Homo sapiens: one gene and its partners. The protein of the gene in region 5 interacts with the protein of the main gene of each other region in a biochemical or structural test. Each region holds a gene or a part of one and is shown on either strand. Other genes may lie near its edges.

Evidence for each region.
Region 1: the proteins of HTRA3 (region 5) and RPS6KA3 interact in a test that uses a peptide from one of them, tested with the Homo sapiens proteins (one large-scale study listed by IntAct).
Region 2: the proteins of HTRA3 (region 5) and FLVCR1 interact in a test that uses a peptide from one of them, tested with the Homo sapiens proteins (one large-scale study listed by IntAct).
Region 3: the proteins of HTRA3 (region 5) and TYRO3 interact in a test that uses a peptide from one of them, tested with the Homo sapiens proteins (one large-scale study listed by IntAct).
Region 4: the proteins of HTRA3 (region 5) and ARVCF interact in a test that uses a peptide from one of them, tested with the Homo sapiens proteins (one large-scale study listed by IntAct).
Region 6: the proteins of HTRA3 (region 5) and GPRC6A interact in a test that uses a peptide from one of them, tested with the Homo sapiens proteins (one large-scale study listed by IntAct).
Region 7: the proteins of HTRA3 (region 5) and CNTNAP2 interact in a test that uses a peptide from one of them, tested with the Homo sapiens proteins (one large-scale study listed by IntAct).

The regions. Positions count from the first base shown.
Region 1 is NC_000023.11:20,151,910-20,155,409, reverse strand, and holds part of RPS6KA3 (ribosomal protein S6 kinase alpha-3), read left to right. Parts: coding exon 1-12; 3' UTR 13-3,500. UniProt on the Homo sapiens protein: Serine/threonine-protein kinase that acts downstream of ERK (MAPK1/ERK2 and MAPK3/ERK1) signaling and mediates mitogenic and stress-induced activation of the transcription factors CREB1, ETV1/ER81 and NR4A1/NUR77, regulates translation through RPS6 and EIF4B phosphorylation, and mediates cellular proliferation, survival, and differentiation by modulating mTOR signaling and repressing pro-apoptotic function of BAD and DAPK1.
Region 2 is NC_000001.11:212,861,275-212,864,774, forward strand, and holds part of FLVCR1 (choline/ethanolamine transporter FLVCR1), read left to right. Parts: intron 1-2,450; coding exon 2,451-2,595; intron 2,596-3,118; coding exon of another isoform or gene 3,119-3,245; intron 3,246-3,500.
Region 3 is NC_000015.10:41,579,712-41,583,211, reverse strand, and holds part of TYRO3 (tyrosine-protein kinase receptor TYRO3 isoform 1 precursor), read right to left. Parts: 3' UTR 1-3,500. UniProt on the Homo sapiens protein: Receptor tyrosine kinase that transduces signals from the extracellular matrix into the cytoplasm by binding to several ligands including TULP1 or GAS6. Regulates many physiological processes including cell survival, migration and differentiation.
Region 4 is NC_000022.11:20,006,824-20,010,323, reverse strand, and holds part of ARVCF (splicing regulator ARVCF), read left to right. Parts: intron 1-3,500. UniProt on the Homo sapiens protein: Contributes to the regulation of alternative splicing of pre-mRNAs.
Region 5 is NC_000004.12:8,272,754-8,276,253, forward strand, and holds part of HTRA3 (serine protease HTRA3 isoform 1 precursor), read left to right. Parts: intron 1-3,500. UniProt on the Homo sapiens protein: Serine protease that cleaves beta-casein/CSN2 as well as several extracellular matrix (ECM) proteoglycans such as decorin/DCN, biglycan/BGN and fibronectin/FN1.
Region 6 is NC_000006.12:116,791,585-116,794,834, reverse strand, and holds the end of GPRC6A (G-protein coupled receptor family C group 6 member A isoform 1 precursor), read left to right. Parts: intron 1-306; coding exon of another isoform or gene 307-311; exon of another isoform or gene 312-619; intron 620-1,584; coding exon 1,585-2,693; 3' UTR 2,694-2,750; downstream 2,751-3,250. UniProt on the Homo sapiens protein: Receptor activated by multiple ligands, including osteocalcin (BGLAP), basic amino acids, and various cations. Activated by amino acids with a preference for basic amino acids such as L-Lys, L-Arg and L-ornithine but also by small and polar amino acids.
Region 7 is NC_000007.14:146,115,356-146,119,600, forward strand, and holds the start of CNTNAP2 (contactin-associated protein-like 2 precursor), read left to right. Parts: upstream 1-1,445; 5' UTR 1,446-1,521; coding exon 1,522-1,618; intron 1,619-4,245. UniProt on the Homo sapiens protein: Required for gap junction formation. Required, with CNTNAP1, for radial and longitudinal organization of myelinated axons.

The DNA of each region.
Region 1 (3,500 bases), on a different chromosome or scaffold from region 5:
ACAGCCCTGTGAAGTGACCTCAGTGAGATATTTGGTACCATGGTGTAAGCTGATAGCACAAGTTCTGGCGACAGGTAGCACGTATCTGAGAGACACCTGCAAGCACACACTGTCCCAGCTGGTACCCATAATGCTGCTGTTCCTGCTGCTGCTCCTGCTTTCCTCTCTTCTCGCTTTAAATGATTGTTAGCAAGTTAGATTTTCCTGGAGCTTCGGAAGAAATGAAAATGGAAACATGATGAAGATATAGTCACTGAATCAATGAGAAAAATAATGAACATATGAATACCACCTAAAAATACACTGAATAAAGTACACCATATAGCATTATTTTTATAGGAAATATTTCATGTCCCTTAAATATTCTTTGTTAGTTATAGGGATGGACAGTTTATGTTAAGCACTTAGCTTAAACAATCCGTTTATATTAGCACTGTATCCCTTGTGCCATCCAACATTTTGTATGTTTTTGTAAACAGTTCATATACAGTACATTTCTGTACTGCTTTCTTTAATGTATACATGCCTTGTTTAACTTGGAATCTATTATTATTAATCAATTGACTATTAAATCTGGTTAAATAGTTCACCTGGATTAACAGTATTGTTGGACAGTCCTAAAAATGGCCAGATTGTGGAACAGCTGTTGAATGTAATACTTCCAAAATGTACATATCTTTCCCCACGTCTGTTTCACTGGTTCGTTCATTTGTTTGTTTCTTAAAGTCAGGTGCTCTGTCAGACTAACCTAGAGAGCTGTTATGGTAGAGAAAGTTATCATATGTGTGTGGCATGAAATCAAGAATACACCTATGAAGTTAGTCCATATACTTTGCAACTCCTTAGAGTACTTTTTTCCTTAATTAAGGAAGTAGTCCTTGCACTTCTAATCTTACATAGCATCCATACTTAGAATTTGGCATATCATCTGGGATTTTGCCAATATACGTCAAAGCCCTTTAAGAGTCATGGTAAGGAGATGGGTGAAGGAAAATTTAGCAACAGGTAATTGAAGTCCTATTGGATATTTCATGTTTAAATAGATATTCTATATTAAACACTAATTTAAATGTAATAAAGGCCAAAGGCCTCTGTATGAAATTGGATTTAAACTTTCTTATTTTAGGGAATAAAACATTATTGATCAAACAGTATCTGTTCTAACCTAAAATTATAGGTAGGGCAGGCTAAGTGAACAGCATTGAGTATTTTCTGAATCCCTCATGATAATTTATAGCCACATACTGCTTCCTTTGACTTCAGGAATGATCAGTTTTCATAATGGCCACTGGGCCTGCTTAGATTGCAGTATTCATTATCTGCATCTAATTTGGTAGTTTCCACAATCGTATTTGATGAAAGAAACTTCAGTCCCCATTATTACCTGTGTCTTTGCCAAGCTGCCTAGCATACATCAGTATGTAATGTAAAAGACATATGAGCAAGAAAAAAGTGATTTAACTTACCTCATCAAGAATGTGCCCCTACAGGCCGGGCGCAGTGGCTCACGCCTGTAATCCCAGCATTTTGGGAGGCCGAGGCAGGTGGATCACCTGAGGTCAGGAGTTTGAGACCAGCCTGGCCAACATGGTGAAACCCCGTCTCTACTAAAAAATACAAAAATTAGCTGGGCATGGTGGCGTGCACCTGTAATCCTAGCTACTCAGGAGGCTGAGGCAGGAGAATCGCTTGAACCTGGGAGGTGGTGGTTGCAGTGAGCCAAGATCACACCATTGCACTCCAGCCTGGGTGACAGAGTGAGACTCTGTCTCAAGAAGGAAAAAAAAAAAAAAGAATGTACTCATACAGATTTTTGTTAGTCATCATGTAATAAGCCATTTATATCAGAAACCTTTTTTCCTGCCACAGAAGCTTTAAATTTTCCCCTAAGAGTACAAAGCCAAGAGAGTGTGGTTTATCTAAATGTCCTGAAATCCACTTGTCATTCCTTAATTTCTCCTCTATGCAATTAAAGAGAAAGGGGAAATCTATAACATTTCTTTTGCCCAAGTGACACAAAAATGATTACTGCATAGAAATCAAATGTAAGTTTAGCTTCTAAATGAAATAATATATAGGAGGGATATCAGAATGTCTAGATAGAGAAAGTATTTTCAAATTCTTGAATATATGGATGCTATTAAAAGCTGCTTTCCATTGCCTGGAAAGAGAGCTTTTTTCCCTCCTCTATTCAGTGTTTCAAACTTTGGTCATCTCAAATTATTGTCACTTTTAAAATGTTAATGTCATTCTGAGCAGAAATAGATATATTTTCAGATTTTTTTACACTGATGCTACTCCGTAATTGCTTAGGAGTATTGTCCATCATAGTATTTTAGAACTAGAAGTAAACACATAAATCCTTATAAATTACCCAATCCAACTTTCTCATATTGCATGTAGAGAACCTGAGACACATATCAAAGTCTAGAATCCTTAACTTCTCCCCATTTTGTTTTTTTCCGCCTCATCACACCATGCTGCCTTTCCCTCATATGATCACCAACCAGTAGCTGAGTTCAAAAACTACATATTTCTTGGGCAGTCCTCTACTGGTATGTGATGCCAACTTTTATTTCTTTCGAAGATAATTGCCTTCTTTGCCTAGCCAAGCAGCCAATTTTATTGGAGAAAAGCAAGTTATATGTTCACAAAATGGAAGGCTTTCTACCTAAATTTATTTCATCTGTGGTCCTCTTATTCTCTTCCATTGCTTTTGACATACAGTGGAAAAACTTGGCCAACGATGTGCTCTAAATATAGTGCTTGTGTTGGGTTAACTTTTCCATTAATTTCTCAACATCAATTATTCAGGCCCCTACAGTTGTGGTATTGAGGCCCCTAAAGGCTTCTGCCTTTCACCAATTAGTGCTGCCAGTTACTGAGGCTTCTCCCAAAAGGTATCAGTCCAGTCTTAAAGATATTTCATTGTGAAAGAAGAAACTAAACTATCAGGCCTCTTTTACAAAATGAGAGATTGAATTTAAGCTTGTCAAGCACGTACTGGAAGGTATGAATTACACTACCATGTGTTTTGTATCTTCCCTTTCAAGTGATGATGTTAAATGAAGGTAAGTTTTTCATCCTTTTTTAATTTTTGTTTTTTATAAATCATTTCAGCTTTTTCTGGTTTATAGAGGTGTCTTATTTCTAATGCAACAGACCCCCAACTTTAACAGATTTGATATGGATGCATTTATTCACAAGCAACCCCAAAAGTCCAAAAATGTAATAATTTTGACAAGGCCCAAAGTTGAGATGCTATGAAGCTTGTGTGTGTGAAAAGTCAGTTATGATTGTCTGGAGAGAAGCTGTGGTGTGTATGCTGTAGAGTTTCCACATTTCACATGCAGTGTACTCCAAAAAGCGGGTTTGGGTCAACCATTTCCCATCTCTTTTTAAGAAGTGACTGCTGTTGGGGCCAGGGGACATCATGGGAGGTGGGGCTGTCCAGTTAGCTGTGCCCTGCACCTTCAGCCCAGGAAAGATTTGAACAGAGC
Region 2 (3,500 bases), on a different chromosome or scaffold from region 5:
TGTCCTGTTGGCTTGGAATATTTCTTCACTTGACTAACTCCAATTTCTTATTCAGATCTTTGCTCCTCCAGGAACTTTTTCTGAACCCCATTTCTTTTCATTCTTTTTGATAGCTGAATAATATTTCTATATAAGGTGCTCCCCCAAAGTACTCTCTTAGCTACCATGATCATATGTCCCAGTTTGCTTGGGATAGTCCAGGTGGTACACCTGTTGTCTGGTATGATTACTAATGAAGTCCCTTTCATTCTGAAGAGTATTCTAGATGGATAGTAAATTACGTGGTCTCCCCAGTCTTGGCACTGTTTACGTCTCAATCACAGTACTGTATTACCACCCTCTCTTGTAATTACCAGTTATATTCTTTCTATCTAGCTTTTTGTTTTATTTTTATTTATTTATTTATTTATTTTGAGATGGAGTCTTGCTCTGTCCCCCAGGCTGGAGTGCAGTGGCGCGATCTTGGCTCACTGCAAGCTCTGCCTCCCGGGTTCATGCCATTCTCCTGCCTCAGCCTCCCGTGTAGCTGGGACTACAGGCACCCGCCTCCACACCCGGCTAATTTTTTGTATTTTTTAGTAGAGACTGGGTTTCACCATGTTAGCCAGGATGGTCTCGATCTCCTGACCTCGTGATCCCCCCACCTCGGCCTCCCAAAGTGCTGGGATTACAGGTGTGAGCCACCGCGCCTGGCCTCTATCTAGCTTTTTGTAAGGGAGCAAATGAAATATTTGATAAGTGTGACTATCTCTGCCTCAGACTCCTTTCTTGGGCCCTTCCTCCTCACGCCCTTCCTCCTAAAAATCTTCCTCCTAAAAACCTTCCTCCATTGAACCTCCTAATAGTTTGATTTTATTTCTTGTGATTATGATATTTAGCCATATTTTTTGTTGAGGTAAAATTCACATAAATAAAACTAACCATTTTAATGTGTACAATTCAGTGGCGTTTAGTACATTTACAGTGTTGTGCAACTGTTACTTCTGTCTAGTTTCAAAACATTTTTATCCACCCGCAAAGAAGGCCCAATACCTACTAAACAGTCACTTCCCCACCATTGCCCCCTCCCCTAGCCTGTGGCAAGTACTAGTTTCCCTTCTCTTTCTGTGGATTGACCTGTTCTGGATATTTCATATAAATGGAATCATACAGTAGGTGACCTTTTGTGTCTGGCTTCTTTCACTTAGCTTATTTGCAAAGTTCATCCATGTTGTAGCACTGTATCAGTACTTCATTCCTTTTTAATAGCTGAATAATATTTCATTGTATGAATATACCACATTTTGTTTATCCATTTATCTGTTGATAAATGTTTGGGTTATTTTCACCTTTTGGTTATTGTGGTAATGTGAATAGGGCTGCTGTGAACATTCATATGTAATTATTTGTTTGAATTTCTGTTTTCAGTTTTGGGGACATATACCTAGGAGTAGAATTGCTAGGTCATATGGTAATTCTATGTTAAACTTATTAAGGAACTGCCAAACTTGTCTGCAGTGGCTGCACCATTTTATAGTCCCACCAGCCGTATTCAAGGGTTCCAATTTTTCCACATTCTTGCCAACACTTTTATATTGCTATTATTGTTATTATAGTAGCCATGCTACCTGGTGTGGAGTGGTATCTTATGGTTTTGATTCGGGCATGTTTTCAAATGCTTATTGACCATTTGTATATCTTCTTTGGAGAAATGTCTATTCAAGTCTTTTGCCCATTTTAAAATTGGGATATTGCTTTTTTGTTGTTGAGCTGTAATAGTTCTTTATATATTCTGGAAGCTATACCCTGATCAGATATATAATTTACAAATTTTTCTGATTCTGTAGGTCATCTTTTGTCAGCCTTATTTTGCATATTCTTATTCCCCTTTTGTAAGCATCTGCAGGGCAAGGACTGTATATTACACAGCTTTATAATAGCAGCATCACTCAGATGGTAGGAACTCAGTAAATGTTTTTTGGATAGGAGAGATATTGGTGAGCAATTTCCCTTTAACAATACAATAGTAAAAAAGACATTAGAGCATAGTAGTTTAGGCTGGGTGCAGTGGCTCACGCCTGTAATCCCAGCACTTTGGGAGGCCGAGGCGGGCGGATCATGAGGTCAGGAGTTCGACACCAGCCTGACCAACATGGTGAAACCCCGTCTGTACTAAAATACAAAAATTAGCTGGGCGTTGTGGCGCGCGCCTGTAATCCCAGCTACTCAGGAGGCTGAGGCAGGAGAATTGCTTGAACCTGGGAGGGAGAGGTTGCAGTGAGCCAAGATTGCGTCACTGCACTCCAGCCTGGGAGACAGACTTTGTCTCAAAAAAAAAAAAAAGAACATAATAGTTTAATTTTCAAAGCACCTTTATAAACACTAGCTGTCCTCTTTATGTTCTGTTAATTGCCAGCATTTACTTTTTTCTCTAATGATAATAGCTGTTAACAGGACTATGTGTTTTTCAGCTTGGAACTGCAGTTGGCTTTTTGCTACCACCAGTTTTAGTACCCAACACACAGAATGACACAAATCTCCTGGCTTGTAATATCAGCACCATGTTTTATGGAACATCAGCTGTTGCCACACTTTTATTTATTTTAACAGCAATTGGTAAGTGAATTACTTTCCCTAAAGCTTAAATGAATGCATGATAGAAATTTGAGAATAACTAACTCTGGAAATTTTTGTTGATAATATCTCAAGTGTCATGTGCTTTGTTTCATTCTTCCATGCCCTGTCTTGCTCAGGTAATGAATGCTACAACCCTAGGGATGTTATGGCCCACTACATTTATTTTCACATTGTGAAGGGTTTGAAGACTAATTCATTTATCCCTCTACTAACTTTTCTTCTTGGTAACTGTTGGTTTCAAATATATTACCTGCCTCCTCTTCCCATATTCGCCTACATGGTCTGCATCTTATGCCTCTTATGCCTACCTAGCCAGGAACAAGTTCTTGCCATGCTTTGAAGTGATGCACGTAGGCTATGGTCTTTCTGGTAATGCTAAATTCTCCCAAGGCTTTCCAATTTAACAATTAACTGGATCTGAAAATGTTGACTAGTGAATGGTCCTGGGCAGCAGCAAGCTGTTCAGCAGAATTTCAAACTGTGGCAACTATCTACTTGTTAGGCCACTCCAGCAAAGCACGGCTGCCACCACTCGTCACTGAGTCCTCTCGTCTGAGCCTGTCTCTTGAAGCAGTCAGTCAAAATCAACTGCAAGCAGCCATCATCAGTTTGGAAGAAGCTTTGGGAAGGTCTGCTTTTTAAAGTTTATTTTTAATGGGAAACTTTTGATTTCAGGGAAAAGGATAGGTAAGGTTTATTTAAGTAATATAGCTGCTAGCATAACTATAATATTGCCCTTTAGGCACTCATCTGAAATTGATTTGAAGAGGAAAAGAACTAATAAAGTTGAAATGCCATCTTTTAATCATTCAAATTTATAATTTCATTATAGCTGGAGTTTTAAATTTATATACTAGTTTTTACAATGGCTATAATAGTAATGG
Region 3 (3,500 bases), on a different chromosome or scaffold from region 5:
ATCCTGGCTAACATGGTGAAACCCTGTCTCTACTAAAAATACAAAAAATTAGCATGTTGTGGTGGCACGTGCCTGTAGTCCCAGCTAATTGGGAGTGTGAGGCAGGAGGAGACTCGCTTGAACTGAGAGGCGGAGGTTGCAGTGAGCCGAGATCACACCACTGCACTCCAGCCTGGGCGACAGAGCAAGGCTCTGTATTAAAAAAAAAAAAAAACACTTAAAAATTTGCCAGGTGCAGTGGCGTGTGCCTGTGGTCCCAGCTATTCAGGACGCTGAGGTGGGAGAATCAGTTTACTATCACTTTACTCCAGCCCAGGCAGAAACAGAGCAAGACCCTGTATCAAAAAAAAGAAAAAAAAAAGAAATGTGCATAAAATATAGATTGTTCAATAAATGGTGGTATTGGGACAATAAAAAGTATCTGGGAAAAATAACTTTGAATCTCTGTATCACTTCTTATTCAACAATAAATTTGAGATAAATCAACATGAAATACTGAAAAATAAACTATATTATTATTATTTTCTTTTTTGAGATGGAGTCTCACTCTTGTCCAGGCTGGAGTGCCATGGCACAATCTCGTCTCACAGCAACTTCCACCTCCCAGGTTCAAGCAATTCTCCTACCTCAGCCTCCCAAGTAGCTGGGATTACAGGCACCCACCAGCACGCCCAGCTAATTTTTTTTTTTTCCGAGATGGAGTCTCACTCTCTCACCCAAGCTGGAATGTAGTGGCTCACTGCAACCTCCCCCTCCCAGGTTCAAGTGATTCTCCTGCCTCAGCCTCCCGAGTAGCTAGGATTACACGTGCCTGCCACCATACCTGGCTAATTTTGTGTATTTTTAGTAAAGACAGGGTTTAGTAAAGACAGGGTTTCACCCTGTTAGCCAGGCTGGTCTCAAACTCCTGACCTTGTGATCCGCCCGCCTCGGCCTCCCAAAGCGCTGGGATTACGGGTGTGAGCCACCATGCCCGGCCATTCTTGCCTCTTTGAGACTCACTTTTCAAAACTGCTGTTGTTAGATGATCCTTATAAACATGTTGCTGAGGGAAAGAAGCCAAACGCAAAGTAATCAAATCTACATGACTCCATTTATATACTTTTAAAAGGAGCTTCACTGATCCATGGTGTTAAGAGGTCAGGATAGAGGTTACCTATGGGGAGTAGGGAGGAGGCAGAGATTGAGGCAGGTCCCAAGGGTTGCTTCTGGGTTGCTGTTAATGCTGTTTCTTAATCTGGATGCTGGTTCTTTGGATCTGTTTGTGAAAATCCTTTTTGATCCAGAGTCTCTCTCTTTTTTTTTTTGAGACAGAAAATCCCAAAGCGCTGGGATTATAGGCGTGAGCCACCATGCCTGGCCTCTTTTTTTTTTTTTTTTTTTTGAGATGGAGTCTCGCTCTGTCACCCAGGCTGGAGTGCACTGGTGCCATCTCAGTTCACTGCAACCTCCGCCTCCAGGGTTCAAGTGATTCTCCTGCCTTAGCCTCCCAAGTAGCTGGGATTACAGGTGCCTGCCACCACTCCTGGCTAGTTTTTGTATTTTTTAGTAGAGATGGGGTTTCACCATGTTGGCCAGGCTGGTCTTGAACCCCTGACCTCAGGTGATCCACCCGCCTCAGCCTCACAAAGTGCTGGGATTACAGGCATCAGCCACCGCCCCCAACCGATAGTGAAGGTCTTTTCAATCAATAATTCCCAGATGTTATCTCACAGGTAATCACTACCTGCAGTGAAAGCTAATCACAGCAGGAAAGATTCTGAAAGCTACTTGCCTGGAAGTTTTTCAGGTTTCATGATCTACATGGGAACCAGAATTTGGAGTACCAGCAACAGGTTTTTCAGGATATTTGCTTTCAGAAGCAGCCACCCTATTCCCCTGCCCTCAGCCAGAAGCAGCACAATACCTGTGGGCCCTCCCAGTCTCCCCACACTCCTCACTAGCACATGTGTGGTTCCTGCGCCTCCTGCTGCATCTCCCATGAACTTGCTCTAAAAGCTTTTTTGTTGTTTTGTTTTGTTTCTGAGACAGTCTTAATCTGTCACCCAGGCCGAAGTTTAGTGGCAAGATCTCAGCTTACTGCAACCTCCTCCTCCCAGGTTTAAGTGATTCTCATGCCTCAGTCACCCAGTAGCTGAGATGACAAACCTGCGCCACCAAGCCTGGCTAAACTTTTTTGAATTTTTAGTTGAGATGGGGTTTCATGTTGCCCAGGCTGGTCTCGAACTCCCGGCCTGAAGTGATCCACCCGCCTCAGCCTCCCAAAGTGCTGGGATTACAAGCTGGGTATGGTGTCTCACCCCTGTTATCACAGCACTTTGGGAGGCTAAGGCAGGCAGATCACTTGAAATCAGGAGTTCGAGACCAGCCTGGCCAACATGGCGAAACCCTGTCTCTACAAAAAAATACAAAAAATAGCCGGACACAGTGGCTCGTGCCTGTAGTCCCAACTACTCGGGAAGCCAAGACAAGAGACTTGATTAAACCTGGGAGACAGAGGTTACAGTGAGCCGAGATCACACCACTGCACTCTAGCCTGGGCGACAGAGAGAGACTCGAGACTCCGTCTCAAAAAAAAAAAAAAATACACGCCACTGTGCCCAGCTGAATATTTGCATTTTCAAAAGATCAATGGTGATTATCTCTAGGTGGTGGGAGTATAGGTAACTGGCACCTTTTATTATTTTTTGCATTTTTATTTTTATTTTATTTTTGAGATGGAGTCTCGCCTGTCACCTAGGCTGCCGGGATCTCGACTCACTGCAACCTCCGCCTCCTGAGTTCAAGCAATTCTCCTGCCTCAGTGTCCTGAGTAGCTGGGATTACAGACACGCGCCACCATGCCCAGCTAATTTTTGTATTTTTAGTAAAGACGGGGTGTCACCATGTTGGTCAGACTAGTCTTGAACTTCTGACCTCGTGATCCACACACCCAGGTCTCCCAAAGTGCTGGGATTACAGGCGTGAGCCACTGCGCCCAGCCGATTTTTTGCATTTTTCTAACTGCCCACGGTGACTCTGTATTATCTTCAGTATAATAAGATTCATTGGGATCCTGTATCTAATTACAAAAGCATTTTGTGCTCAATGCAGAAAACTTGGAAAGCACAAAGAAGAACGTCCCCTTAACCCCATCATTTAAAGGTAACAGCTGTTGCCAGGTGCGGTGGCTCACGCCTGTAATCCCAACACTTTGGGAGGCTGAGGCAGGCGGATCACGAGGTCAGGAGATTGAGATCATCCTGGCTAATACGGTGAAACCCTATCTCTACTAAAAATACAAAAAATTAGCCGGGCGTGGTGGCAGGCACCTGTAGTCCCAGCTACTCGGGAGGCTGAGGCAGGAGAATGGCGTGAACCTGGGAGGCAGAGCTTGCAGTGAGCTCAGATCGCGCAATTGCACTCCAGCCTGGGCGACAGAGTGAGACTCGGTCTCAAAAAAAAAAAAAAAAAGATAACAGCTGTTAACATTTTGGCATATGTCTTTCCAGACTTTTCTC
Region 4 (3,500 bases), on a different chromosome or scaffold from region 5:
CCTGGGTAGGCACAGCCCCTGGGCTGGACAGGGTGGATGTGAGGGCCTCCTGCCACCAGCTTGGGTTTGTTACTGGCCTGAATATGGGCAGCAGCCACTGGTTTGATGTCTGGCTTTAGGGACAAGCCTGTTTGGGGCTGGCTGACGAGGTTGCTGGTCAGTGTTGGTTTGGACATTCACTGGGTCTGCTCTTCACCTGCCTGAGCTAGGATGCCAGCCGCAGTGGCATCCAGTATTGGCACAGCCTGCTGGGCCAGGCCATTCGCTTGCCCCCCAGAGACTGGAGCCACAGGGACAGAGGATAGTCCTGGAGGCCAGGCACACAAAACTTTGTTTGAAAAGGTCTGATAGTAAGTAATTCAATTTTGCAGGCCTTATGGTCTCTGTCACAGCTGCAGTTCTCTGCCATTGTAGGATGAAAATGGCTGCAGACAGCCCATAACTGAATAGTCTGAATGTACTCTGATCACAGCCGTAGGCCATGTGTACTGGCCCGTGGCCTCAGGTGTTATCTGTGTTTGGGGTTCCTCTGCTTATCATGGCTGCTAGCTCCAGTGGGACTGAGGCATAGCGCCTGGGAAGCATGGCAGGGTTGGAGGCTGAGTGGTCCATGTCCCCCAGGACCCTCTGAAGGATGGTAAGGCATACCCTGCTCACATCCACGCTGCCAGAGTTTTGCCACGATGGGTGCTGTTCAGCAGAGTGGGTGATGGCTTAAGAGAATGGCTCCTGGCCATTCTTGTTCCTCCAGTCCCCACCCTGGCCATCTGCCTGTCCCCCCAAAAAGCAGTCTCTGTGGGAGGCATGGCTGACAGCCCTGTGGTTTCTCAGTGACAATTAGTGCCCATTGTGGAGGCATGGCCCAGCCAGTGCTGTGCCTAAGTGGTAGGGAGAAGGCCATGGCCTCCGGATGCCTGAGTGACCTAGGCTGAGGGATCTAGGGCAGATGGGAGGGACAGGATGACTGACTCCTTGCCTGTTCCCAAGTCCTTGGGCATGGAAAGCTGCCGGCCGGGCCAGCCTAGTGGGAGCTGGGTCTGCTGCCGCCTGGCTGTGTGGGAGGACCAGCGTCTGGCCGAGAATGTCACTGCTCAGGCCATTTGGCCATGCAGGGTCTTCTGGGTTGGGACAAAGAAGCTCAGGCAGGGTACTTGGCTTGCTTGTGGCACAGGTGACAGGGCATCTCAGGGTGGCAGGAGGGGCTGTCCCACTGCCCTTAACTCCTCGTAGGTCACCACACTTCAGGGAGGCCAGGTCAGCCAGACACCAAACGACAGCCCTGGTAACAGGGTCCGCAGGAGGGTGGTTGGCTGGGCAGGTCCGAGGCTGCCCAGGCACACTTGCTCACTCTCCCTCCTGTTGCTTGCTCCTTTCTTGTCCCTTCTTTTCCCTCCCCCCTCCAGTTCTTGGTCTTCTCTATGTTTCTCTGTGGCCCTCTCTGTGCCTCTTTCTCTGCCTTTCCCCATCTCCTATCCTGCCCATCTGGAATGTGGTGATTGCTTATTCCTGTCTGCTGTGGTGATTGGTTTTTCATGTCTGCCCTGGGCACTGGTGCGATGGGTGATGGCATTTGTGCCATCTCTGCTCTGGCTTGGGCAACCTGGGCTCTGGCTTGCGGCTGCCTGCTCTGCTGGGCCCTGGGGTGTGGTCCTGTCCACAGCGGGAGGCAGCTGGGGAGGGAGCCTCAGGGCTCAGCTGGGACAGGGGCTGATGTAAACACCCATGTGTCACCACACTCAGCACCCACTCACCCAGCCTCATGCTGGGTCCTGGGCATCACAGGCACATCAGGCCCAGCCCTGCCCCTGAGGAGCTCCCAGCCTGGTTGAGGAGATCCACAACACACAGAGGAACCAGTGGCCAACTGTGGGGTTACAAGATGGTGATGAGTAGCATGGCTCCCTTAGGAGGGGGAGCTGGGAGGGTGTGATGGGGTGGTGCGTGCTGAGACCAGGCCTGAGTGAGAAGGGCTGGCGGGGACACAGATGCCCTGCCGTTTCCCATAGCTGGCCAGCAGTGGTGTCCTCTCAGAGACCAGCACCAGCCTGGCCTCCTCCATCAGCCGCCGTGTGCCTGCAGGGGGTTGCGGCTTCGTCTCCTGCGGCCGCCTGGCCCCTATGACAGGCCTTCTCTTGGGTTTTGATGTGTTTCTCAGCCATTGTATGAGTCTTTGTATATTAAAGATATTAATTCTTCACTCCTCTTTCTGCCTACTGCACATTTTTCTCACCCTTTTAGTTTTTGTTTATGATCATTTTGATGTCAAAAATGTTTCATATTTTGTGGTGAAGTGTGTTGGATTTTTCCCCATTTTTAGATATTCCGTCTCTCTGTGTAGTCAACTCTCCCTAGCATGCAGCCAGATAAAGATGCACCTGTCTTTTCTTCTAGAAGGTATTTTTACTTTAGTTTTGTACACAGCATTTAATCTGTCTGTCTTAGTCCATTTTGGGCTGCTGTATCAGAATACCTGAGACTGGCTAATTCCTGAAAAACAAAGACTTATTTCTAACAATTTTGGAGATGGGGAAGTCCAGGATTGAGGGGCCACATCTGGCGAGGGCCTTCTTTGTCGCTACATCCCCCAGGAGGTGGCAGAAGGGCAGGAGCACACGTGAGAGAGCGCTGAAGGAGGCGGAACCCATCCTTTTATCAGTAACCTGCTCCCGAGATAACAAATCCACTCCCACTGTAACGGAATTAATCCATTCATGTAGCAGAGCCCTTGTGACCTAAACACCTCTTAGAGGTCCTACCTTCAACACTGTTGCGTTGGGAATTAAGTTTCCAACACGTGAACTTTGGGGGACACGTTCAGCCCATAGCACAAACTAGTATTTATTCTGATGTAAATGGACGGCAAGGATTTAACTTTGTTTTTACAGCTGCATCTGAACTGTTTCCTTTTTGTTTGTTTGTTTTGAGACGGAGTCTCGCTCTGTCACCCAGACTGGGGTGCAGTGGCGCATTCTTGGCTCACTGCAACCTTCACCTCCCACGTTCAAGCAATTCTCCTGCCTCAACCTCCCGAGTAGCTGGGATTACAGGTGCCTGCCACCATCACCAGCTAATTTTTAAATTTTTTTTTTTAATAGAGATGGGATTTCACCATGTCCAGGCTGGTGTCGAACTCCTGACCTCAGGTGATCCTCCCGCCTCGGCCTCCCAAAGTGCTGGGATTACAGGTGTGAGCCACCGCTCCCGGCCATGCCTGGCTAATTTTTGTATTTTTTGTACAGACAGGGTTGTGCCATGTTGCCCAGGTTGGTCTCGAACTTCTGGGCCCCAGCAATCCACTTGCCTTGGCCTCCCAAAGTGCTGGGATTACAGGTGTGAGCCACTGCACCCAGCCTTAAATTTTTACCTTTGATATACTATTTATTTCAAAAGGGTAGGCCAGGCGCGGTGGCTCATGCTTGTAATCCCAGCACTTTGGGAGGCTGAGGCAGGCAGATCACGAGGTCAAGAGATCAAGACCATCCTGGTCAACATGGTGAAAC
Region 5 (3,500 bases):
CAGAGACCTGCACAGGACCCGAGAGCCCTGTCGCCACCAGAGCCCACGGAGCCAGGTGGGGAAATGGGGCCTGGTGGGGAGGGGAGGCAGAGAGTGCAGGTGGGAGGCTGCTGGCCATCTCCAGGGCGCCGTTCACACTGTGGGCGGTGTGCAGCCCTGCCACTGTAGCCCGGTGCACGGGGACCTTGGACAGCCAGCTTTCGGCAGGGCGACACGCAGAGTCCACTCCCTGTGGAGGCCTTGGGTGCCCGGCCTCTCCCCAGCCCTGTCTCATTTCCCACGGCAAGCCTGGTCCTTTCCCAGGCACCACAGATGTGCTGCTGGAGGCCAGGAAGGGTGAGGGACTGCTCTGAGGTCACATGGTCAGGAAGTGACCCGGCTGGGCCTGGCCTGGGTCTGGCTGGCTTTGCAGGCTATGCTCTGTGGGCCTCCTGGCTTTTCCTCTGCAAGGGGTGGCAGGGCCCCTGAGGCTGGGAGTCGGGTCAGGCCTGGGCCCCCGGCTCCATCAGGCTCAGCCTCCATGGAGTATTCCAGCAGCGTAGCCGGCTTCTGCCCTCCCGAGGTCCCAGCCAGAAGTTGCTGGGTGCCGGTCACACTTAGTGGTGTGCCAGGCGCTGCCGGGCATTTCTGGGAGGAAGTCCTGCCTGATGAGGGCAGCCTCCTGTGGGCTGAGGTTCCTTGTGCTCTCCTCTCCCCTCCCCATGTCAGCTCCTCCGCCTTCTCCCACCCTCTAGGCAGGAAGGTCTCCTTGGTCCCTTCTCGCCACCCTCCCCCCCGCACCCCCGCCCCAGTAAGCTCATCTGCCATGAAGTCCTCCCCAGGTGCTGGGACTTCGGGCCCTATCTCCAGCCCCCGGGTCTCTCCTGAGTTAGAGTCACGTGGAGATGCCTGCTGAGCCGCCTCGGGCTCTACTCTTCCCAGCCCCACTGAAAGGAGCACCACGATGTTCAGTGGGGAGCCTCGATCCCCTCCGTCCCTCCGCCCCTCATTCCCCTCTTCCCCTCACTCCCCTCAATGCCTGCTGCACTGTCACAGTGGCTCATCAGTTTGGGACTTGGTGTGGGGGTACCTTTCCTGGGCCTGCCCATTGCAGCCCAGCTGTGTGGATGGGGGCCCTTACTCCTCTCCACCCCTCATTCCTCTCTGCCTCTCACTCCCCTCCACCCCTCATTCTCCTGTGCACCGGGAGTCCCCTCAGCTCATCCACAAAACATCTCCTGGGGCGCTCTGACTTCCCCCTCCATCCTCCCTTCCATCACTTCTCACACAGCAGCCAGGATCACCTTGGTCAATCTGTCCTGCCCATGACCTGCAGGCTTCCTTGCAAGGCACCCCAGCACTTACCTTGACTCACAGGGCCCTGTGCCTGCCACCTGGCCCGCATCACCCTCGGTGCCGTCTCCCACTGTCCCCTCATCCCCTGTGCTCTGGCCTCATGGCCTCACCGGTCTCTTTCCCACCTCGAGGCCTTTGCACGCAATGTGCCCACTGCCCGGCGTTTCCTTCCCTTGCCTTAGCGTGGTGGGTTCCTCATCCTGCCTTCACCCGGATGTCCCACCGCCCCTGAGCCACCTGCCCTGGCCACTGTGCCCAGGTCATCCTTCATTGCTTGGTGAGCACACCCAGGGTCTCCGGTGGGCCCTGCACACAGATGTGACTGTGGGTCAATTTCTCTGCGTGATCCCCATCTCCTCCAGGCTCGAAGCCTCGCCGGGCAGGGGCCTGGGCCAGTGCGTGGCCTCTGTAGATGACACGAAATGAGACGAGGGCCCATGTGATGTGTGAATCTCCTCTAACCCTCTGGGCCCTTCTTGCATCCCTCCAGTGACAGAGGCTCACCACTTCTCAGGGGAACCCTCGCATCTTCTCAGGTCCATGTTAAGGCATCGCAGTTGCACAGAGTGGATAAATGTCCATCCACGGGATGGTAAAAGCAGGGATAAATGCGTTTCTGAGGGCCTGTGTGGAGAAGGGTTTCCCTTTGCGCGTAACCAGAGCTCTGAGGCCATGCAGCCTCTCCTCTGGCTGCAGATAAACAGGCCTTGGAGCCTGCCATGCGCTCAGAATGTAGAGCCCCAGAGCAGTTTACAAGGTGGCATTTAATCACCGGCTTTTATTGTGCAACCCCAAGCAGGTTCTGATGGCATCTCCCGGTTGTATTTATTGAAGAACTTGGGTTGGCTTTTGATTTGTAATCCTCTTAGCAGCTTCCTGGGGCTGCACATGCCTTGGAGTTCAGCATCTGGGACCACTCAGGCAAGATGACGCCTCCCCTCCTGCCCCGCCCACTCCCGCTGGGGCTGCAGTGCTGAGCCACAGCATCTGGCGGCACTGGAGGACTTGGAACTGCCGGCAGAGCTGCTTGGCCAAGAGCTTTCGCCAAGGCTGCCAGGAGCCAGGAGTCCAGCCGGACTGGAGCTGAGACCAGGGCGCTGTGCAGCTGCCCTTCCTGCCGGGGCTTGGCCTAGCAAATGCACCCTCACCCCATCTGCCATCCTGTGGTCTTCCCCCGACAGGCCTCTGCCCTCCCATGCAGCCCCACACAGCAGCCTGAAGGGACTTGGCGAGACCCGGACCCTCCCTGCCGAAAGCTGGGCCATGGCTCCCACGGCCTCAGGACTAAGCATAGCCTCCTGGCAGGCTCGCAGGCTTGGTGACCCCAACCACTGCCTCCTGCCCACATCACCACAGCCGCAGACCCCTGTGAAACCCCCATCCTGCATTGTGAGGGACCAATGACAATGCATGGAGCCCAGAAGAGGAAGAAACCACCTTCAGAGTGGAGAGAGGGCTAGATCAGGAGGGCTTTCTGGAGATGGGGGCGTCTAGTTGTGGAGAGGTGGGTACAAGGGGGCCTGTGCACCCTTGGCCTCCCACAGGCTCACCAGGGCCTGCCAGGTGGTCTGAACACCTTCCGCCCAGGCTTGCTTTGAGGGAGGGAGGCCACCAGGTTTCACAAGGGTGAACGGTGTGACACTGGGCACTGTTCCAGGCCCACAAAGCCTTCAACACATCATTGGGGTATTGATGTCCTGGTCCTGTATGAGAAAGGGTTCAGGGAGCTGTAGGAAGCTGCCCTCGGTCACTCAGGTAGGGATGGATGGTTCTGCCCTGAGCCCAGGTCCCCTGGTTCCCCAGCCAGTGCTCTGAATACCAGGCAGGCCCCTAGCAGCTCGAAGTGTCTGCCTTGTTTGGTTTTGATGAGGGTGTTTGTGGACTAATGGGTGGGACAGGGTTTAAAATCATAGACCGCTGTCCTTGGTGCAGCAAAGATATGGCGAGGACACGTCCATATGTTCCCCAAGCTGAAAGCCAGGTCTAGTGCAGGGGTAGCAGGTGACTCCCTGGAATTGTGCAATGTACAGCCTGCCCACCTGTGTGCATTACCCTGCTCCAGCACATAATGGGCAGAGCACCAGGACTGGGACCCAGTTCTGTCCCTCATGTCTGGCTGCTCAGGGTGGAGTCCCAGCTCTGCCCCAGAAGTCTCTGAAGCTCTT
Region 6 (3,250 bases), on a different chromosome or scaffold from region 5:
AGAGTATCAAAACTTTATATGTATCTGCATTTTATTATCTCACATTTAAAATTTTCCCGTTCCTTGGTATGTTTAATAATGTTTATATTAGTGGAATTGAGCATTTAAATTATCAATAAATAAAAATGCTATACCACTGCCTAAAAAATTAGATAATTAGCGAGGGAGTTTTTCAGGCAACATGGTAACTAGCAACTACCTTCCAAGTGAGAGAAATAAAAACACCAAGGAGTATGTAACATTTATTTTCCATAAAGACGTACGGGACCCTTTAAAGGCTGTATCTGGGTTTTCTTTTGGTAACAGGGTAAGTCGCTTCCAAGAACAAATGGAGAAATGTAGAAGACTGAAGACAACTTGGAGGATAAGCTAGGAGTTAGGAAAGCCTAAAAGGATACCATCTGCTGTTCCTCTCTATCTCTCTAACACACAGCTCCCATACCTAGATGAGGCCATTAAATGTCCACTGGACGAATGAAATGACAGACACTAGCAACTGTGGTTACAGGGCAAACAGAAAAGAACAGATTTTTTAGGGGAATAGAGTTCGGAAAGAGGAGGAGGCTGGAAGGGTCATGAAGTTTATAAACAGAAATACAACCTTACTTTGAGGTTAATAAAGAAGAGAACACAAAATTTTAAAGAGTTGTACAGGCTGTGGGGTGTCATCAGATGAATGCCCTGACAGAGGCCCTTTGATTGCAGCTGAGACTCACCAACTTTGGGTGGCTGGAATGGGGAGCAAATGTAATATCACTTCTAGAGACAAAACTCTAAAATCAAGTATTTGTGCTGCCCTGCAGCCAGAATAAGCATAAATACTTTTCAAAGTTAACACTTACAGTGTGAGAGGCTCTGATTTACCCACTACTTGGAGAAAAAATAAACTTTAATTCTTCATCAATTGCCATCGATTACAATTTTGCATTATCTCACTTTTAGAAAGAGACTTCAAGCTTTCAGAGTGACCTAGCCATATTGCCTCTGCTTTTGAAAGACCTGCACCCTTATTCACGATAGCAACTCCCATACATTGAGGGTCTACTATGTGTAATGGTCTGTGTGAAGCATTTTACATTTATTATCTCATTAAGTACGGCATCACAATACGGCAGAGTCTTTTCATTTTATTATTTTTTGAGATATGGGAGATTCTGAAATAGGCTCAGAAAGTTCAGTTAGTTTGTTCAAGTTTACAGGAATTATAAGTGGAAGAGATAAGAAAAGCTACGTCTGATTCCAAAACCTTATTCTTAAGAGTGCTGGAACCATCATCTATAATAGCAAATGCATAAGAAGCTAGCATCTATTCTGAGTATATTCATTTCCTAAACATTCACAATCCAGCTGGCTTTTTTTCTTTCTCTATTTTCTCTTTCTTTTCCTTTTTCCTCACTTTTACCCTTTCTCTCTCACTTTCTTTGAGTTTTAGCATGTTTTATTTTAATAAGTAACCAATGTAACAATCATCTATATCTATTCTCTAGTCAGAACTATTAAAGAAGACGAATCTCATTTGTAGTATTGTGGACTATCACCTAGTTTAAATGTTGACAATGTAACTGCGTCTCCTCTGTCTTTTAGATATGCCTCACTGCCTTTTATGCAACAACAAAACTCACTGGGCCCCTGTTAGGAGCACTATGTGCTTTGAAAAGGAAGTGGAATATCTCAACTGGAATGACTCCTTGGCCATCCTACTCCTGATTCTCTCCCTACTGGGAATCATATTTGTTCTGGTTGTTGGCATAATATTTACAAGAAACCTGAACACACCTGTTGTGAAATCATCCGGGGGATTAAGAGTCTGCTATGTGATCCTTCTCTGTCATTTCCTCAATTTTGCCAGCACGAGCTTTTTCATTGGAGAACCACAAGACTTCACATGTAAAACCAGGCAGACAATGTTTGGAGTGAGCTTTACTCTTTGCATCTCCTGCATTTTGACGAAGTCTCTGAAAATTTTGCTAGCCTTCAGCTTTGATCCCAAATTACAGAAATTTCTGAAGTGCCTCTATAGACCGATCCTTATTATCTTCACTTGCACGGGCATCCAGGTTGTCATTTGCACACTCTGGCTAATCTTTGCAGCACCTACTGTAGAGGTGAATGTCTCCTTGCCCAGAGTCATCATCCTGGAGTGTGAGGAGGGATCCATACTTGCATTTGGCACCATGCTGGGCTACATTGCCATCCTGGCCTTCATTTGCTTCATATTTGCTTTCAAAGGCAAATATGAGAATTACAATGAAGCCAAATTCATTACATTTGGCATGCTCATTTACTTCATAGCTTGGATCACATTCATCCCTATCTATGCTACCACATTTGGCAAATATGTACCAGCTGTGGAGATTATTGTCATATTAATATCTAACTATGGAATCCTGTATTGCACATTCATCCCCAAATGCTATGTTATTATTTGTAAGCAAGAGATTAACACAAAGTCTGCCTTTCTCAAGATGATCTACAGTTATTCTTCCCATAGTGTGAGCAGCATTGCCCTGAGTCCTGCTTCACTGGACTCCATGAGCGGCAATGTCACAATGACCAATCCCAGCTCTAGTGGCAAGTCTGCAACCTGGCAGAAAAGCAAAGATCTTCAGGCACAAGCATTTGCACACATATGCAGGGAAAATGCCACAAGTGTATCTAAAACTTTGCCTCGAAAAAGAATGTCAAGTATATGAATAAGCCTTAGGAGATGCCACATTCCAGAATAAAATGTTTCCAGGGTCTTTGCATCTAAGATATAAATTTACTTTCCCAGCAAATATGTCATATATATTTCCTTGCCACCATCTTTACCAAGTTTTAGTTGAACAGTCACTCTGTTCAATCACCTATTTAACAAATAGAATTGAGCCTTCAGCCTGAAGCTCCCTTCATTTCCTACCTTTTTCATTGGTCTCCATCTTTACCTGCTTCCTCTTAGGCACATCGTTAAAGACTTCTCTTCTAATCAAAGTTGTCCCGTAATGTGTCATCCTTACTCCATTCCCGACACCCTCTTCTCAAATCTCTTTGGATTCTCCTCTCTTGAGCATTTTTACTTTTCTTCCACTGTTCAGTGTAGTTGAACAAGCACTTGAGCAATTACTATGAACCAGTTGATATGCTAAATAACAAGGTACAAAAGCAGCAAGGTGTCTTTGATGATCTCAAGGAGCTCAAAATCCAAGGAGAAACAGGCACATATCAACATCTTCAATCAGTGTGAGGAAGTCTATGATTATAATGTATATAG
Region 7 (4,245 bases), on a different chromosome or scaffold from region 5:
AAACATATGGAGGGTAGAGTGTGAAGAGCTGTGAGCTGGGGAGAAGAGCTTGATAATTATTATTAAAATTATCTAAATGTGAAAAAATCTAGGTCTCTCTAAACATTCTTAATTCTTAGTGCTTGCAATGCCTCAGGTACCTTGAAATAGTTACCCATATGCCTGCTTATGTATTTCCGTTTTGTGTTTGTGTTTGTATGCGTGTTTGCCTAAGTGTAGTTTCTCCTGGCAGCAGCGTGTGTTTGGTGTACGTGTGCATATGTATGAGTACGAATTAATTACATATCGAAAACATGTGCATTAACGGCATCTGCAGTCCTCCCTCCCTGCTCCAGTCAGTCGGGATGTTTAGCACCGTCACTTGGTGTTAGGACCACTCGGAAGACCTGCCTGTCGGACGCCTGACTGTGGTTCCCGGGGGGCCGGAGCTCCAGGAGCCTGTACCATCTTTATCTGAAGGGGAGGAGAGAAGGAAAGGAGAAGGCATCCGAGCGAGGGTGTTCTCCTTCCTGCAGCCGGGTAGGGGGCAGCCAGGTTTGGAGCAGGGTTCTAGGATTACACGGCAAATCCCCAACTTCAGCACCGCGGACAGCATCACCTCCCGCCCAGGGAGAGGCGCGCGCCTCCTTGCTCCGCCCCCGCCCCAGCTGATGGACCCCGGCCGGTCGGCTCAGTCTCCCTTTTGCTTTCAAACGAGGCCAGGGCAGGGCAGAAGGGTTTTGACAGCCAGAGGGGTACGGTAAGGAGGAGGAAGAGGAGGAGGAGGCGGAGGAGGAGGAGGAGCCGAGGAGGGAACCGAGAAGGGAAGAGAAGGGAGGGCTTCCCTCCGCCTCGCTCGCCGCCCGGGCTCACAGGAGCTGGCGGCGGCGGCGGCGGCGGCGGCGTCTCCTGCTCTCCGCGGCTGTTGCTGCTGCTCGCGCTCCGCCGCCCGGGAGATGCTTCCTCGCGCGGCGCAGCGCTGAGGCCGTGCGTGCGCCCCGGCTGCGCTGCGCGCTCCCCACATACACAAGCTCTCCATGTGAGCTGACAGGCGAGTGGAAACCCCTCGAGTCACGCTGCCCGGCGGCGGAGGGAGCGCTCGCCCGCAGTGGCAACAGCTGCACCACCGTCCCCGTCGCTCTGCCTTCCTCTTCTGCAGCCTCTGCTCTTCTGATTACCTCCCTCCCCCGTCCTTTGGTGATTTTTTTTTTTCAAGAAGGAGAGGGCGGGGTAGGTGTCCGTTCCCTCCCCTCTTCCCCCTCCTTTGCCTTCTTGGTTTGAATTTCCTCCCCCGGCGTTGCACTGGCACACAGTGCAAGAGGCAATACCCGCACGGAGGGAGAACGAAGGCTGAGACTCCCCTGCCGCTCCAAGCCCGGAAGAACTGGAGCCTGGAGGGGGGTGAGGGGAGAAGAGGAAGCGGGAGGGGCTTGGCTTCCTCGCGTATTTGAGGACAGCCCATCTCCCTTCAAGAACCCTACGGAGAGTCGGACTGCATCTCCGCAGCGAGCTCTTGGAGCGCCGCCGGCCGGGAGGCGAAGGATGCAGGCGGCTCCGCGCGCCGGCTGCGGGGCAGCGCTCCTGCTGTGGATTGTCAGCAGCTGCCTCTGCAGAGCCTGGACGGCTCCCTCCACGTCCCGTAAGTAGCCGTCTCCTCGCTCTGCTCTGGAGCAGTTTCAGTGCGGCATTGATGTTTGGCACCAGGGTATCAACTCCGAAGTGCATCGCAGTGCTGGCACCCTGATGTGTTTGTGTCTCCGCTGTCACACACTTGCAGCCACTGCAGTAGACAAACTCGAAACCCAGCGTTTCTGTTTTGGAAGAGACAGGGTTGTGACGCTGGTGATGTTTCTGGAAAGTTGTTCCTGGTCTTGGTGATCGGTTGGCAAGAGCTTGGCTAGAGAGACTGATGTAGATGGCAGCTTCTTAGGAGTTGTTTGTGCAGGGAGAGTTAACTGCATTTGGCTTAGGTAGGTCAGTGAATGAAAAGTGAAGACCATGGCAAAACCAAGTTTCTTATTTTTATTTATGGTTATAACTTAATGAGCACGGGGTTGAGGTTAACAAGAGGAGCATGTTTTAAACAGTTTGGGCACCTATAGGGTCTCTTTAACCTCTCCCGTTCCCTTAAAAAGTTAATGCCCATTTAGTACTTGCTTATTAAAATGGAAGGCAGCGAAATTGTAACTGAAATTGCTTTAATTCTTTGATACTTTGATATCATGGATATGACTGATGCAGTACGGTACTTGGGACACTCAGTGCAAAGCGTCGTTAATGTAGTAATAAACAGATTCTTAATAGGGTTTTCAGGAAAATAATTATATTCAATATGTATATCTCTGCATTTTAATCAACTGTGTGTGTGTGTTTGTGTGTGTGTGTGTTTAAGACTGCCCCTGTTTTCATGAGGTTTAGAAAGAAATGGAAGATTCTGGCCCATTTTCTGCATTCCTTTAGAAGTGCATACTGTGCATGTAGAGAGGAAATGCATGATTGTTCCTTTGGTTCAGAAAGAGTTAAACACTAGAAAGACTGCCTATAGGAATCTTAGGATAATATTCATAAGCGCATACTAGTTTCTGAGAATGAGTAAGTTGATAAAGAATTATCGTGGAGATTTCAGAGTTTAAAAGGAAGATTTTTTTGTCCATTTAGGAAAAGAAAAGTTTAATATTTTCCAGAATTCGTCATATGCGAAGTAGTCTTTGTTTCTAAGATTTTGGGATGTATTAATGCATCTTTGTTAATAATGATCTTATTGTAGTGGTAAATATCAACAGGAATAGCATTGAAAAAGGACATTATAAGTTGTAATAAGGAATCTACTATATAATATCCGGTTATGAGCCAGTATTACTGTTTTGACATATCTTCCTAAGTACAGTATTAGCTTTTCTTTTCCCACAATGTGTAAAGATAAGGAGATAAACTAACTGGCAATCTAAGTTTGTAATGAACTTGAAAACATTGTATAGCATTTTTTATAACACAAGTTAAATCACAAAGAGTTAAATATTGTTAATATTTATGTCAATTTTATAAATTTAAACAAATTTTGGGGATATAATGCTTGCTGTTGATATTTACACAAATATGTAACTCTATCACTGGGAAACTAGTTTGATGAAATTTCTGTTTCCATTTCAAGGTCTGGTTGTATAGAATTTCCTGCCACTTTTCCTGGAAAATAAACTCCTCATATATTAAATTTATTATATTCACTGATTGAAGGTCCTCATATCCAGGGTTTTTCCTGGGTTCTGTGTTCCATCATTCTGTATACTTTAATTTTGATGGGTCCATCTGAAACATCTGCCATGAGTAGCAAATGGAACACTGGCAGCCCTTGGGTTAATGCATTTTAAGATAAAAAAGTTGTTATTTCATAAATATTTTCTGAGTTTTCAACTTTATAGTTAGAATTTGAAGACAGAGAACATAGAAACAATTACTTTTAAGATGGTTAATAGTTATGGCCATTAAGATTTTTTATTAACTTGGCTTTCATTCTCTATTGTTTAAAAATGTGTAATGGCTTAATTAAGGTGGCTTTTTATTTCGTTTGAATTTAAACTGTGTGACCAAAATGCAAAGTTGCCCTATATCCTGGAAATGAATTAAATAATAAGGATGCTACAGAACTTTATTGATTAGAATGAGTTTCATGGATTCAGTACTTTAAATATCAACTGTACTTTACATTAATGAACATTTTTATTTACATTATATATAGCTCTGAAGAAAAGTATGATAGTTATATTCTTAATATAAAACATTCAAAGGAGAAAAAGATGGAAACTACATGAATCTAAGATAATGAGCAACTCAACCAGGAGAGGTCATCACAAGACAAAAAGTAGCATGAAAATCTAAAACTATCATTTTTCTTTGGTACACATTTTTAAAATGTGATGAGTATGCTAAAACTTTCTGTTCCTAAATACCTTTTTAATATGAGGGACAGAAGATGTTTATTTCACAACAACTGCATTTCAAATATGTATTTGCTTATGACTTATTTCTTTTTCTCTGTCGACAGACATATAAAAACTGTTAATACTATGTGTTGTACAAGCAGACTAGAATAAACTTGAAAACAAAGCTCATCACTATGGTTATGTAAAAATATAATCTAATTTCTTTGCAGATAGCGAAAATGAACTGCTGCTGAGCTGATGTAACAAATCGTGTATCTTCCCTTCCTGTAAATGTAGATACACGGGACACACGTGGGAAGTTTAAAGAAAATATTTCACTCTTAGG